2 separate regions of the Homo sapiens genome follow, and region 2 is linked to region 1. Evidence: fine-mapped expression QTL. A gene starts in region 1. The other region holds a variant in brackets. All regions are shown on one strand. Distances are between the middles of the regions.

Region 1 (3,046 bases):
GCCGAGTTTCCAGCGCTCCCAGCGCAACCCCGGGCTGAGCCAGGGGCCCTGGAGCTCTGGAGGAAAGCCCCGCGCCTGACCGGACGCCGCAAGGGCGCTTTGGAGCGGAGGTCGGGTTACTGAGATATTTCCCAGGCAACCCGAGTCCCCATTTGGACCAAGAGAAGCAACCCTCCAGTTTTGGATGGAGAATTTCTAATAAGGATGGAGGATTTCCAATAATCAGGGACTCTTCCCCTCTCCCACCCCTCCCTCACCTACCGGTCTCTTTGATGGCCTCGATGATTTAAGGGAATAAACTCGACATTATTCTCTCTCCATAACTCTCCATCTATCTGTTCCTGACTCCTAGGGGTCTTCCATTATTGTAGGAAGAGCGAAATATTTGGAACTTACGTGCCCCTTTCAGGTAGAGCATAGCTTGAGGAGTCCAGTTCCTTCTCTCCAACAGTCTCTATAGCCCGGGGGAAGGGAAGAGCAGTTAATAAAACATTGCAGCTCAGTCCTCTATTACAGCAAAATAAAGGAAAAAGAAGAGAATAAAACAAGAAGGAAGAAAGAAAGAGCAGAGTGGACACACAGTGCGCATTGTTTTAAAATTTTTTATTTTGCATTTGATTACCTGCGGAGCGCAGCTGGAGTTTCCCAGGAAAACAAACACCAGGAAAAGAGCCAAGGTTGTTGCTGCCAGACTTCTGAGTCCCTATATGAAGCGATCAACCAGAAAGGGTCATTTCTGTGCCAATAGGATCTTCTGCTTCCTTCCTTGACGCCTGGACAATTATAAACCCCCTTACTTCTCGCAATATTCTGTTTTAATACTCAGTTTTCTGGAGGTGTTTCCCTTCTACCTTCTAGTTAATTCACAAAGAGTCCACTTGAAAAAACGTATTTAGAAACATATTATTTGTATTACTTCACCCAAATGAAGAATAAGTAAATACGTGAATTTTTTTCTTAGTAAAATCAAATGATTCTGTTATTCTAAAGGCGTATCGTTCAAATATCCTTTAAACTCTAAAATCCTTATTAAACATGAAATAGGTAAAATGCTATAAAACGTTTTAAAAAATAGCTAAGAAGTCTCAAGTTAATAAAGCCTTTACTTACCTTCATGTTCTGCGTCTTTTCAGAACCCTGAAATAACTATAACTTTATCTGTGAGTTTTCGACTCTTGCTCTGAAATTGGAGCTTTTAAAATCTTGGTGTTAAGGGCACCTCCCCATCTGGAGTAGAGTTTGGGAGTCCACAGGGACATCTTGTCAGTCTTCAAGCAAGATTGAGAATCTGATGACTCCTCCAGGGAGCTTCATTGCAGGAAGTAGAGGAATGATTGATGGGCAGAAATTATTTGTTTAAATACTGATTGCATCACCCAGGAGGCCTTCAGAATGTGTCAGCATCATTGGCCTTGCTTTTCCTACTAGCTGCCCAAAGTAACATGTTATTATTATTATTAATGAAAACAATCAATAGTCCAAGGCAGAATCAAAAGTAAAAGAATAAATCAGAAAACTTTTCTTGGGTAACTAGCCATCAGTCTATCACTGATGGCTAAAGATGTATGAAAAGGTTTGGGAATCTCAATGGAATTTGACATCAGTCATTCACTTAATTATCAATTCATTCTGTTGTTTAGCAAATATTTATTGAGTGCCTATGAGACACACAATCCTTGTATTTCAAGGGACACAGCCATGCACTGAAAAGACATGGTCTCTGCTTTGATCTAAGTTACCTACTAGTTAAGGTACACAGTAAACTGATGAATAGATAAATAAGACACAGTAGTTACCCCTTAATCGTAGGTGTGTGTGGGGTGGAGGAGCATGTTTCAAGACCCACAGTGGATGCCTGAAACCACTGATACGTATATGCCTTATTATACTATTTTTTTTTATCTGTTCACCAAGATGGTTACTAACTGATTAATGGGAGAGTGGTGTTTACATATGGACATGCTGGACAAAAAGATGGTTCATGTCTTGGGTGGGCTGGAGCTGGACAGTGAGAGATTTCAACACCCTACTCAGATTTAAAGCTCACAATTTAAACTTATTAATTCTGGAATTTCCCATTTAATATTTTCAGACTGTAGTTGACCATGGGTAACTGAAACCATGGAAAGTGAAACCGTGGATAAGCAGGGACTACTGTAACTACAGAATGTTTTAAATTGTTAAGTAAAAGTAAGCAAGGTGATGTGATAGGATAAGTGGTGGGCTACTTTAGGGAAGGTTAAAAACAGAGGGTAGTCTTGAAGGATAAGGTGAAGTAATGGGAGAAGCTGGGCAGGAATTAGTATTCCAGGCATTCTCAATAGAAGAAAGAAAAGCAAAATCTGTGGACAGCAAAGAGCATGACTTGCTTGGGGACTAGGAAAGAGGCCAATGGAGGCAGCGTTGTGTGGGTGAACGGGGGAGGTGCTTTGAAATGAGATTGGAGAAGAAGAAATGGGCCAGTTGATGTGGAAATACGATTATAAGCAATAGATGATGATGGCTTACACTGGGATGGTACACACAGGGAAAGAAGAGCTGTAAATGAATTTGGAATACATGTTGTGGAGGTAGAAAATATAGAACTTGTATATAAAAGGGATATGAAAGTGTGAGAAAAATAAATCAAGGATGATTCTTAGGTTTATGGATAAAACTGTGGGTAAATTATGAAGTAATTTACTGAAATTAGAGAAACTTCTTAAGAAGCAAGTTATGAGAGGGAAATTAACACTTGCCATATAGGCATATTAAAATTAAAATGTATATTAAAAATATCCAAGTACAAGTACAAAATAGAAGGTTAGAAATGCAAAACTTGATAGAGGTCAGCCAAGAGGTCACCAGCCTACAGATTTTCTTTTTGGTGGGGGGCAGAAATGATTAGCTTTAAGAATTTTAAGAATTCTAAGAATTTTACAACCAGTAAAGGGATGAGATTAAACACAACACTTAGGGAGTGAATAGGGCTAAAGAAGAGTGGCAGGGACAGAGCTATGAAAACAAACGCATAGAGAATGAGCAGAGGAAGAGCCAGAAAAGGAGG
Region 2 (2,500 bases), 34 kb before region 1:
TCCTTTCTTTTGACATTAATAAAATGAGGAGAGAAATGCCTATTGTACATGATTATTAGTAGTATATTTAAAGCACCCAGCACAGTGTCTGCTATCCCAAAAGTGCTCGTCATGTGCTTGTTTCTTTGCTTTAGGGCTAAAAACCAAAATACAACATCATGAGAATCAAGACATTTAGCGGAAAAGTAAAAATAATCTATCTGTCATCAATCAACATGAATAAGCAAAAAAATTGAAATATTATTTTAGCTTTTACCAAAGCTTAAATCTTCATTAAACTTCCAATCTGAAATTTTAAAGAACTAATTTTGGTCTTGTAATATTAGCTCTCATTCATGCTATTTTTTTAACCACAGAAAAGCACAGTGTCATCAATAGCAATTGTTATCTATTCTAGATGGTCAAAGGCACGAAAATATTTTGTTTGAATTTTCAAATTGTTAACTGACAAATACTGATTGAAAGTCAATTTGTTTATTGGCAAGTACAGACTGAAAATTTAAAATTTATTTTGATTTTAATTAAAATTTCTGAAAAAGTCTCAGGAAGGTGAATATAATCTCTCTGTGAAACATAAATAACTATACCTTTTATCTACTGATATTTTAAAACTCTACTTTTCAATGTTTAAGTTCCATCTATCATACTTTTTAAAAATCTTTGATAGTTGACTCTGTGTTTTCTAATTCCTCATCAGATGCATAAAAGTGACATCACAGTGATGGTGTTTTTCATTATGCCTGCCAAGACAAATAATTTCAACGTGGAAACCCTGAAAGGACAAGCAGTGCGAAAACAGCTGTGGTAATCTCACAACCTGTGAATGTTCTCTAGCAATAAATGTGAAAAGATTTCTTTTAAGTGAATGACATCTCATGTATCGCCTTGAACTTTGTTTTTTCCTTAAGATTATTACAGACAAATAATACTTGACTCTCTTTTCATCGTGCTACTATTTTAGGTTATCGTAATGGTTATAACATTATAGGTGTTATACAAATTTTGGAATGAGCTACCATTGAAGGAACAAGGCCCTGTAGAAATCTTTAAAGATGAGTCAAACATTTTTTAACTTTCTATTGTGAAATTCTAAGAACATGTCAAGTAAAAAGCTTAGTAATATGACTCCCTGTATACTCATAGTTCAGATTCAACAATGATCAACGAATTCCCGTCTTGTTACACCTATACCTTCATCTACTCCCCCTCTCTGCTCTCTATCCTGTTCCAATCATCA[T/C]GAAGCAAAAAAATTTTAAGCTCTTTGTGCTGGCCATGGTGTTCTGTTGCCTCAGCTCTGGAGATGTCAACTTAAGCTGAATTGGCAAGTAGTAAAATAATAGAAGAGACTATAAAAAAGATACCTGTAATTTCAAAGAATGTAATTTCAAAGAATGTCAACAAAACAATAGCATTATCGTGACAAATAAAGATTAAACATTGTCATACTGTTTAAATGATAAATCTTTCTGTTTCAAACAGGGATGTTGCACATTCTGTGAAGGAAAAGTTTGGAAAAAAACTCTATGATGCATTATTAAGGTAGGTGCTTGAAATGCTTTCTACTTCAATCACTTAAGGTTTCACTATTCAAATTTAACAATTTAGACATCATAACTTATTAATTTTGTTCCAAATATCAAGGAATTAATAACCTTTGAAAATGTGTTATGTCATGTGAACAGTATTTTACCCTTCATTTGACAAAACTTGTAAATAGCTGTACAAATAAGAATACATTTATATGCAGGCAAGTTCTAATTCAATGATGAACTCATTAAGGGTTGATATGTCAGTCTGAAGCTGAGAGAGACTTCATGAGATTTTAATTCAAAATATATATTGACAATGTGTATTAAATATGTACTTAAATATTAAGTCTATGTGAACACATTTACTTAATAGAATAATCAACATTATTTATTAAAATACATGAAATATATAATATATAATCTGATGCTTAGGAATCACTGAATTAGTGCCAGCTGTTTTTATTTTTGTTATTAACATTTTTTCCCTGCAGAGGAGAAATTCCTGACCTGAACGATATTTTAGATCGAGATGATCTAACAATTATGAAAAGAGCCATCTTTTCAACTCAGGTAATAAGGAAAAAAGCACCCACTATGTCCCATAGTTATTAAATTCTATCTAATCAGTATTTTAATTTATTGGAATGTGCTAATTTGGAACATTTTCAGACCTGAGGCTAGAAAAGACATTCTTACATAGTCACTTAAATGATTACTTTGGACATTTTTTCATTAGTGGTTTTAAGAGCTCCTTTAAAACATCTCATGAAACTTGTCCTTCCACTTGCTTACAAAATTATTTTTGAATTAATATATTCAATATAAAAATTATGTATAGTTTAGTAACTACAAAAAAGTCCTAAATACTTCCAAAACATAGAATTTGAGTCACATTAGAGAAAAGAATATTTCTTAGTCGAGTGGAATTATTACAAAGGAGATAAAACAAATGTGTCAGGCTTGCATCAGAA

What was found.
Region 2: its variant is fine-mapped to the expression of SPX in lung (TOPMed, PIP 0.91).

Annotation. Positions count from the first base shown.
Region 1 is chr12:21,524,543-21,527,588 of GRCh38, reverse strand. SPX (spexin hormone) reads right to left here and starts at 1,293. Exons shown (of 6, transcript NM_030572.4): 1 at 1,111-1,293; 2 at 623-703; 3 at 397-454. The coding sequence starts at 1,116.
Region 2 is chr12:21,558,690-21,561,189 of GRCh38, reverse strand. It overlaps GYS2 (glycogen synthase 2), which reads left to right. Exons shown (of 16, transcript NM_021957.4): 8 at 698-804; 9 at 1,480-1,539; 10 at 2,021-2,099. Among named protein-coding and RNA genes, the nearest start is that of SPX, 34 kb to the right of the region's middle. RefSeq lists an enhancer at 2,067-2,500. The variant T/C (reference allele first, on the strand shown) is at 1,238.